Regions from separate parts of the Homo sapiens genome. Here region 1 is linked to region 2. The links come from fine-mapping of genetic effects on gene expression. A gene starts in region 2. The other region holds a variant in brackets. All regions are shown on one strand. Distances are between the middles of the regions.

Region 1 (5,372 bases), 27 kb after region 2:
AATTTTCAGCCTATTATTTAAAGTTATACAAGTAATCACTGGAATAACTCTAAATAAACTACATAGTTTCCAAAATACCATAAAGAAGAAAACAAAAAGAACACCTCTCACATAGCAATTGTAAGAAAATTAAGAAGCATGTAAAGCAGAAAAAAGAAAGGACTAGGGTTAAACATATCTATTAGAATGTAAATGAGACACTCACCTATTAAAAGAAAAGGTACTTATTAGATTTTTAAACATCAAAAACAAAACCTGCCAGGTGCAGTTTTTGGATTACAGTGGCTCAGACACCTGTAATCCCAATATTTTGGGAGGCCCAGGCGGGCGAATCGCTTGAGGCCAGGGGTTCAAGACCAGCCTGGGCAACATGGCACAACACCATTTCTACTAAAAATGCAAAAAACTACCCAGGTATGGTGGTGTGCACCTGTAGTCCCAGCTACTTGGGAGGCTGAGGTGGGAGAATCCGTTGAGCCCGGGAGGCACAGGTTACAGTGAGCTGAGATCATGCCACTGCACTCCAACCTGGGCGATAGAGCCAGATCTTGTATCAAAAACAAAACAAAACAAAAAACCTATATAGGAGAAATACCTTAAGCTTAGCTGCCCTGTGCTGCCCCTCAGGGAATGGTCCAGGATGAAGCCAAGATTAATTTAAATTAGCATTTTTTTTTTTTTTTGAGTCAGAGTCTCGCACTGTCACCCGGGCTGGAGTATAATGGCGCAGTCTCAGCTCACCACAACCTCTGCCTCCCGGGTTCAAGTGATTCTCCTGCCTCAGCCTCCTGAGTAGCTGGGATTACAGGCACCCGCCACCATGCCCGGCTAATTTTTGTATGTTTAGTACAGATAGGGTTTCACCATTTTGGCCAGGCTGGTCTCGAACTCCTGACTTCATGATCCGCCCACCTCGGCCTCCCAAAGTGCTGGGATTACAGGCGTGAGCCACTGCACCCGGCCTAAATCAGCATTTTTAAGGGCGAGATCCAGGAGTCGATATATTTTTTTTAACTCTTGAAGAGATTGCAATGTACAGTCAAGACTGAGAATCATTAATTTAAAACAGAGATTCAAAAAGGTAAGAAACAAAAGGATGGACAGAGATACAGCAAGCAAATGCAAGTGACAAAAAAATCAAGGACCGTGGTATTTATATATCAGATAAATTCAAGGCAAAAAGCATTAACTGGGACACACGTTGGCTTCATAGTGACGAAAGCACCGTCCACCACGAAGTTGTAGTGGTCATGAGCTTATTGTGTGCCAAATCACAGAGCACTGAGATCTTAGGTTGAACTGCATGAAACTGACATTTTTATAGGTCAAAACTGATGAAATGTTGGCAAGTTCAACCTGATCAGTAAAGCAAAATATGTTCGTACTCACAGTATGCTGTAAAGTACTAACAGAGCCTGATGTAATGCAAACAATACATATATTCTGGCCCCTGTATCATATGGCTTAACTACTGTGGCATTAAAATACTTTGAAGTTCAGCCAGACGCGGTGGTTCACGCCTGTAATCCCACCACTTTGGGAGGCGGAGGTGGGCGGATCATGAGGTCAGGAGTTCCAGACCAGCCTGGCTAAGACGGTGAAACCCCGTCTCTACTAAAAATACAAAAAAATTAGCCGGGCATGGTGGCACGTGCCTGTAATCCCAGCACTTTGGGAGGCCGAGGCAGGAGAATGGCGTGAACCCAGAAGGCGGAGCTTGCAGTGAGCCGAGATCGTGCCACTGCACTCCAGCTTGGGCGACAGAGCGAGACTCCATCTCAAAAAAAAAAAAAAAATGGATAAAATAAGCCTGATCCAGCCTCCCAGAGCAGGCCTTCCAAGGGCTTCCTCCTGCCTGTGGGAAGCGTGGCCTCACCTGCTCCTCCCAGGAGTTGATGACCACCAGGTGTGCGTTCTCCAGCTGGCAGTACTTCTCCGCCTCAGCCCAGGCCTTCCCGGAGTGAGAGAACCAGTAGCAGCTGCCTTGGTGCTCCACCCAGTTGACGGGGCAGCAGGTCCTTTGGGAGCCTGAGGGGACAGGGGGCAGGGAGATGAGATCCAGCCGGAGGGGCAGGCACACTGGGCCTGGAGACGGCCCCACCCCTACCGTTGCTGTGGAGGAGCTCCATCTGGCAGGCCACGAAGCGCAGGTCCACGGGGAAGTGCTTCAGATGGAAGAGCAGGGCATCGTGATCTAGGACAGACAGGCTGAAAGTGCTGCCGGCAGGTGTGGTCCCCACCTGCTAGGCTCCAGCCTGTGGCTGGGGAAGCATATACACCCACAGACACGTACACCATGCATAGACCACACCACACACCATACCACACACACACCACAGACATGTACACCACACATAGACCACACCACACACAGATCCATCACACACACACAAACACACCAAGAGACACACCACACACATCACATGCGTACACACACATATACCATACCGCACACACACAGACTCATCTCACACACACCACCACACATGCATACACACACAACACACACATATACACCACACTACACACCACACACAGATCCATGACATATCACACCACACATACGGAGAGAGACACAGATACACATGCTTGCAGGCACACACACGCACGCACGCACACGTGCACACTACACACACCGCACACGTACACACTACACACACCGCACACGTACACATGCACGCACATGCGCACACACCCCGGAGGCTCTCTGACCTGCTTTCAGGTCCTGCTGCTGTTTCTCCAGCTTGGCTCCTAGGGATGTGATCTTGTCACCCACGCTGCCTCCTGGAAGCGGAAAGCCAGCTGTTTCCCCGCTGAGCCTCCCTCCGTCCTCATGCTGCTGGGGGACCGGGGGCCAGCGCCTCGTCCTGGGCGATGCAGGCGTCCACCTCCTGGCTTCCTGGACCACACCCAGGCTCCCTGCACTGCCACAGTGGCTCAGGCCACTCTCCTGCTTCAGTCCCTTCAATGGGTCCCCATTTTCTCAAAATAAAGCCTCGCTCTGTCAGCAC[G/A]GCTCACCTGCGTGGCCGGGCCCCTCCCCACCTCTCTCTGGCCACCCCTTACCTGCCTGCCCCTCCGATGGGCCTGCCACACTCGATTTGCTCACAGGCCCAAGACATGGTGCCTTCCTCACCTCCGGGTGTCGCAGATCCAACCTCTCCACCTGGCACTAACCTCGTCCGTCCCCACCTGCCTCCCTCCTATACATCCCCCAGGGCCCCTGGACGCCTTGCCCAGCCTGCACCCCCACGGCACCCCACACAGCCCTGTTGCAGACTCGGCACTGAGCCCAGCAAACCTGTGCGGATAAATGAGAACCCAGCCGTCCAGCCCCTCACCGTGGGTGCTGATTGCCTGGACCTCCGTCAGGGTGCTCGAGGAGAAGTTGCTGAAAGCTTCCTTCAGGCTCCGCAGCTCGGCTTGCAGCTGTGCACCTTGTCAGGTGGTAGTGGGGGCAGGATGAGGCAGAGGGGCCGTGTCCCCATCACTGTCCATGTGACTGGCCCCTCAATGTCCCCGCATTTGCCCCAGCTTGTGCTCCACCCCGCCTCCATCCCTTCCCCTCCCATCGCCCCGATCGCTGCCCGCCACTGCCCATGTCTCTTTCCCTACCCCTTGCCCATCCCTGCTGGCCCCCGTGACCCTCACTTTGGGACCCAGTCACACAGATGACCACCAGCAGCAGGATGTTGAAGCTCAGGGCAAGCAGACTGAAGCAGACCATGGAGCAGAGACGCTGTGCCAGGGGCTGGGCAGGAGGTGGCCCTGTGGGAGAGGGGCATCAGGAGCCGGCAGCCTGGGTGTGGGGAGCCGGAGGGTAAAGACAGGGCACCGAAGCCTGAGGAGGCATAACCTGGGCGGGGGGATTGGTTGGGGCCATGGGGGGGGGTCATCATAGGCTTTGACCCCAGCATTTGAGCATTACACACACACTCTTACACACTCGCACCCATATTACCATGTATAAATATACACACGCAGCTAATCTGGTGCACACACACCCATGCACACGACTCAGGATATTCACATCAGCTGTGTGCAAAGCCCGGATCCTGGAGCTGGGGGACTGGGAGACGCACAGGGGGCGGGGGGGCAGACCCGGCCCTGCCTAGGCACACATCCTGAGAAGGGGGATCTGTGAATGGTTTTCCTCCCATCCAGCCAGTGGCAGAGGCCTCCAGATCACCTCGGGCCTTAGTCTCAGCTCTTCTAAGGCTCCTGTCCCCTCAGATTGGAGACTCCAGAAGCTGGGCCCTGTGTTCTTCCTAAAATCCATACTGGAACAGTCCCTCCCCTGCCAAAATTCCATTGAGATCCTTAAATCTGGGTCATTCCACCATAGCCCACTCTCCAAGCACAACCCTCCAGGTCCCACCTGTTGTCCTCATCCCCCACCACGCAAGGCCTCCTCCCCAGCGCCCTTTGCCCTCGCTTCCCTAGAAACCTCGTTCCACACTAAATTTGCTCCCCTCAGCCCGAGGTCATCTCACAGGTACCTCTCCTGCCCCTTGATCCATCTGCACCCTGACAGCACTGACACACACATTCACATGCCCTCACAAACTCACACACACTCACACACTCACACATTGCTCACTTCACTCAAAAACACACATTTGCACACACTCATGACCACGCTCTGCTGTACCCACTCTCACATGTGCATATGCATGCTAATGCACACATTCATACTCCCTCCCACACACACACACCTGACACACCCACACACGTACACTCACACACCCACGTCTTCCTGCACACAGAGCTGGGCTCCCTCTCTGCTGCCTCCAGACCCAGAGCAGCTCCAGTTGTCCCAGCCCTGAGCTCCTCTCTTTGCAGCATCCACCTGCAAACAGAACACCTTCTAGGCCTTGGACCCTGACTCTGTGGACTTCCTTGTCTTCTCATTCCTATCACCCCCCGACCCAGCAGGACCACATCCTGGGGAGGCTCAGTCAGGGGCCCAGAATCTTCCTCCCCAGGTCACTTCCTGCCACTGTCCTGAGTCAGACACTGCCCCTGTAAGTGACTGTCCATAACTCTTCATCTTTTTCACACCAGTGACTTCCACCTTCCCCACTGCAGCCACACTCAGGACCCCATTTGACCCAGGGAGGCCTCTGACACCTCCACTGCCCACTCCCGCTCTGAGCACAGCCCCACCCTCCCTCTCACTGCCCCCACCCCTTCCTCCAAGGCCTTTGCATTCCTCTCCATCCAGAAGCGCTCCATGACCACGGTGTTCCCCACCAAGCTGGCCCTCCATGGCTGAGTCCCTGACTGCTGTCTTCAGCACCCTCCACTCAGAGGGTCCTGTCCTGCTTCCCAGTCCGACTTATCAACTCCCAATGCTGGGTCAGCCCAGCAACGTG
Region 2 (5,372 bases):
TGTTGTGACCCCCATGACTGTTGGTAGCACTGCCCTCACCATGCCCCATTGTTATCTCCACAGCTGCCCCCAACACTGTGCCCTGCATTGCTCCTACTGTGGACCTCACCATCGCCCCACCACTGCCCTACTGTAGCACCCCATTATTTATCTTCTACCCCATTATTTCTCTCTTCCCTGTCCACCCCTGTGACCCTCACTTTGGAATCCAACCACACAGATGATGACCAGCAGCAGGAGGCCGAGGCCCAGGGACAGCAGGAGATGGCAGGGCCCAGAGCAGAGACGCTGCAGGAGGGACTGGAGAGGAAGTGGCCCTGCAAGAGGAGAGAGTGTCAGGATGAGGAGGGTCCAGACACCGGAGACGGGAGAAGGAGAGGGCCCAGGGAGCTGTCTAGTGAGGAGGGCTGGGCACAGGGGACTCCAGGGGAGGGTTGGACAAGGAGGATTTTGGGGTGGGGGATGCCCAGGCCTTTGACTTCAGGGACCAGCACAAGTCCTCAGTCACACAGGCCCCTCACACCCCTGGGGACCCACGTGATAGCGATATGAGGGGTCCCATGGTCAGAGCTGGGGGCAGGGGCAGGAGGACACAGGGAGAGCTGGGGGCAGCCAGCCCTTCATGGGCTTATGCTCACCTACCTGCTGGACAATCAGGTTCACAAATGAGTTTCCTTCCAAACCCAACTACTTATCTTTCCCTCCACCAATGCGCAGCTCTCATCCCCACCCCACAGAGCATCAGAAGCTGGGTCCACTGTGATCCTCCCTGTCCCAGTCTTTCTAGAGACCTTGCATCCTCTTCACACTAGGCCCGTCAGAGGCTGGGGCCTGACCTCCTCAGAGTTAGGACCCACCAGTGCGCGTGGTGGAGGTACAGAAATGATAGGAGAAATCCTTCTAAACATATAAAGAGGGCATTTTAGGAGAGTTTCCCCTTTCCTCTTACCATTTTTAAACCCCTGGACTTTCACCTTATTCTCCAAGTACTGGAAGTTTTCATACGTCCTTGTCATGCTTGGGCCAACACGGCTCTGAGGTTGTCACAGCTGAAATGGAGGCAGGGCCGGCGCCCAGTCTGGGGTGGAGCTGGGGAATAGGAGGTTGGGACTAAGTTGGAGCCAAGGGCAGGGCTGACGTTGAGTTGGGAGATGAGGCTCAGGTTGAGAATGAGCCCAGGGTTAAGACGGAAATGAGCCTGGGTTTGCAGTCGAGTTAGAATTGGGGTCGAGTTGAGTTTGGGAGTGAAACTGGAGGGTAACGTTGGAGCTAAACGCATTGCTAGGACTACCCAGTGGGCCAGTTAATCAGGCAGGACTGGAGGTTGTATCTCATGCTAGGATTGGGGTCAGTATGCACGTTGGAGCCATGGATGGAATTGGGGTTAACTTTGGTGGTGAATTTGGAAACAGAATAGAGTCGAGGTTCAATTTTGGCTTTGGGCTGGTGTTAAAATTCAAGTTGATTCTGGGGTTGGGGTTGAAGTAGGAGCTGGGTGGGGGGCGACAGGTGCGGTGGCTCACGCCTATAAATCCCAGCACTTTGGGAGACCGAAGCAGACAGATCACTTTAGGTCAGGAGTTTGAGACCGGCCTGGCCAACATGGTGAAACCCCATCTCTACTAAAAATACAAAAATTAGCTGGGTGTGGTGGTGTGCGCCTGTAATCCCAGCTACTTGGGAGGCTGAGGCAGGAGAATCACTTGAACCCAGGAGGCAGAGGTGGCAGTGAGCCGAGGTTGTGCCGTTGCACTCCAGCCTGGACGACACAGTGAGACTCAGTCTCAAAAAAAAAGAAAATGTAGAAGCTGGGGTTAGTATTGGGATTAGGGCATGGCTGGGCTGAGATGAAGATAAGGCTGGAAATGGGCCACCAATGAGGCTGAGTCTGAGTCTTAGTTTATTTTTATTTTTATTTATTTATTTTTTGAGATGGAATTTCGTTCTTGTCGCCCAGGCTGTTGTGCAACGAGGCCGTCTCGGCTCACTGCAACCTCTGCCTCCTGGGTTCACAAGATTCTCCTGCCTCAGCTCCCGGAGTCTTAGTTTATGACAGGGGATTGTGGCTGCCGTAACCCAATCTAGAATCCAGTGAAGGGAACAGAGTCTCAAATCTCCACGTAGTAATTAAACCCCACACTGCCGCCTTATATTTATTTTCATTTAGTCCCACCCAAGACCCAAAGTCCCCCTCTCCCTGCTTCCTCTGACATCCCCTGTCCCCTGGGTCTCACCGGCACCGGCAGCACCATTACCTGTGGGAGGTCTGGAGGGTGTGATTCCCACGTTGGTTGTGCTGCAAGGACCAGAGGTGGGACGTCACTCAGAGTTGGGAGCGCTGTGTCCTGGAGAGCTGGGGTAGAGGTGACTGGAGTCCTGCTGGTCTTGGGTCTGAAATCCCAGGAGCCCTATCATCTGGGACATCCCATCTCCTCAACTTTAGACAGTAAATGAGAATGAACAGGGATTAGAACACACAGAGACCATGTGTGGGTGGGGAGAGTTGGGTTTGAGGCCAGCTCTGTTCTCCTCCTCCAGGCCATGCCTACTTCCTTTCCTCTTCTCGGAGCTTCCTCATTTTTACCATCTGGGAGCAGGGCTGGATCAGAGGTACAATCTGCTGTTGCTCCTCTACCCTACACTTCCTTTCACTTCCTGCCTCTACATTTCCCAGAATTGTTGGGTCTCCATCATCGCACCTCTGATCCTAGAGAAGCCCAGTCTGTTCTCTTGCTCAATCCTGGCCTGAGTCCCTGGCATCAGCATCCTCTGGGTCCCAGTCATTCGGCTGCTCAGCTGTGGCCTCGCTCGCCTCACTCCACTCGGAAGGAGGGAAGGGGGTGCCAGAGAATAGAACTTCTTGGCCCTAATAGGACGGGAGAAGCCAAGGAAAAGAGCAAATTTTATTGAGTAATCTGTGATAGGATTATGCCAGACATTTACCTTCCACAACCATTCCCCCCAAGCACCTGGGGAGGCATTTTGGATGACGGACTAAAGGCTCAGAGCCCAAGATCACTCACAGCTTGTAAGGAGACAGTTTGGCACCCTGCTCTGGCTCTCAGCACAGGCGCTGTCTTCATGAACAGGATTCCATTTCATCCCATGATCCCTGCTCAACCCCTAAGGGAGCTGCCCTGAATCCACGCGCACATCCCTTTCAGTAGGAAGGAAACTGAGTATCTTACAAGGTGGAGAAGGAGAAGAAATACATTTTAGGTTATATTTTGTATGTACATGGGGTTGTGTTCTGCTATGTGCTTTTTTTTTTTTTTTTTGGAGTTAACAAGCTATCAGGAACATTTCTCCACATCAGTTTATAAAATGTACTTGATCTACCTGCACCTCATTTCATCATAGGCACCGTAATTTATTTATTTAGCATTTCTCTATTGACAGAAATAAATCAGAAATTTAAGTTGTTTCTTTTTCTTTTCTTTTTTATTTTATTTATTTATTTATTTTTTTGAGACAGAGTCTCACTCTGTTGCCCAGGCTGGAGTGCAGTGACACAATCTCGGCTACTGCATCTCCTGGGTTTAAGCGATTCTCCTGCCTCAGCCTCCCGAGTAGCCGAGATTACAGGTCCCGCCACCACACCCAGCTAATTCTTGTATTTTTAGTAGAGAGGGGTTTCACCATATTGGCCAGGCTGGTCTTGACCTCCTGACCTCACATGATCTGCCCGCCTCAGCCTCCCAAAGTGCAGGGATTACAGGCGCGAGCCACCGCACCCGGCCAGGTCGTTGCCAGTTTTGTTTTTATTTGGTATTCGGTATTTTGATTAGTATATGTCGCAGGTTCGGTTTTTGGAAGCCAAGGTTGAGGCTGAATTTGGGGTACAAGCTATTTATTAGGGATTAGCACTTCGAAAAGGAAAGTGGATGAAATGGTGCTGGGCAGAGGGAGAAGCCCAGCACTTTGGAGAGCTTCAACCAAACCAACAGGGAGCTCTGGGTTCAAACAATGCCACCCCCGGGAGCTGTCCAGCATTGGACTGCCACAGGGTCCTGTAGAGCACCAGCTCCTTCGGTCACTGGCAGTCAGCCCTGACATGGGTGTGACCTCAGGAAGCAGCTGTCTGCAGGTTACACTCCCCACAGTGGGTCACCACATCCTTCCTAGAAGGGGGACCTGGGTAGCTCTCTGTGTGTCTACCACAGTCTTGCAGTGTATTCACATATTAATTTGGAGATAATCAACATTTTGACATTGTTGAATCTTCCATGAAAAGAACATGATATTTCTCCATTCACTAACTTTTTTTTTTCAGTCTGGTTCAGTGGGTTTGAAGCTTCTTTTTTTTTTTTTAGTTCTGGGATACATGTGCAGAATGTGCAGGTTTGTTACGTAGGTATACGTGTGCCATGGTGGTTTGCTGCACCTATCAACCCATCACCTAGGTTTTAAGGCCCGCATACATTAGGTATTTGTCCTAATGCTCTCCCTCCCCTTGCCGCCCACCCCCTGACAGACCCTGGTGTGTGATGTTCCCCTCCCTGTATCCATGTGTTCTCATTGTTCAGCTCCCGGTTATGAGTGAGAACATGCGGTGTTTGGTGTTCTGTTCCTGTGTTACTTTGCTGAGAATGATGGTTTCCAGCTTCATCTATGTCCCTGCAAAGGACATGAACTCATTCTTTTTTATGGCTGCATAGTATTCCATGGTGTATATGTGCCACAATTTCCTTATCCAGTCTATCATTGATGGGCATTTGGGTTGGTTCCAAGTCTTTCCTATTGTAAATAGTTCTGCAATAAACATACGTCCAATCACTCTTATACACATTTATTCATCCATTTGAGTACTTATTGAGTCTACGGCATGCCAAGCACTTTCCTTCCCAAGAGGCAGAGTTCAGGAGTTCAAAAGTAAACAGACAAAAAAGTCCTGCCTTCATAGAGCTTACCTTCTAGTGGGTCACCAATAAACAAAATAAATGAGTAAAATATACATAAGCCACATGGCAATAGTGCTTTGCGGAAAAAGAGCAGGGATATGAGATAGGGTTGATTTTTAATGTCCCTCAAGAATAGGGCATGTATTAGTCCATTCTCACATTGCTCTAAATAAATACCTGAGACTCGGTAATTTATCAAGGAAAGGGGTTTAATTGCTTCGTAGTTCTGCAGGCTGTGCAGGAAGCATGGTGCCGGCCTCTGCTCAGTTTCTGGGGAGGCCTCAGGAAACTTATGATCATGGTGGAAGATGAAGGGGGAGCAGGTGCCTCACATGGTAAGAACAGGAGCAAGAGAAAAGACAGGGGATCAGATTTTAAATGACCAGATCTCACGGCTGTGCGCAGTGGCTCACGCCTGTAATCCCAGCACTTTGGATGGCCAAGGCGGGCGGATCATGAGGTCAGGAGATC

Direction of the effects. Positions count from the first base shown, and alleles are read on the strand shown. Sizes are in standard deviations (SD) of each study's normalised expression.
With allele A in place of G in region 1, the expression in monocytes after LPS of the gene that starts at base 2,455 in region 2 is higher (moderate effect, 0.55 SD a copy in Fairfax 2014).

Evidence for each region. PIP is the estimated chance that this variant, and not a neighbour inherited with it, causes the effect. A credible set is the group of variants that fine-mapping cannot tell apart.
Region 1: its variant is the best candidate, but not a certain one, in a credible set for the expression of CLEC10A in monocytes after LPS (Fairfax 2014, PIP 0.64).

Annotation. Positions count from the first base shown.
Region 1 is chr17:7,105,124-7,110,495 of GRCh38, forward strand. It overlaps ASGR2 (asialoglycoprotein receptor 2), which reads right to left. Exons shown (of 9, transcript NM_001201352.2): 3 at 3,649-3,765; 4 at 3,339-3,434; 5 at 2,713-2,784; 6 at 2,108-2,194; 7 at 1,877-2,028. Among named protein-coding and RNA genes, the nearest start is that of ASGR2, 7.0 kb to the right of the region's middle. The variant G/A (reference allele first, on the strand shown) is at 3,012.
Region 2 is chr17:7,077,797-7,083,168 of GRCh38, forward strand. CLEC10A (C-type lectin domain containing 10A) reads right to left here and starts at 2,455. Exons shown (of 9, transcript NM_001330070.2): 1 at 2,256-2,455; 2 at 950-1,089; 3 at 201-317. The coding sequence starts at 1,016.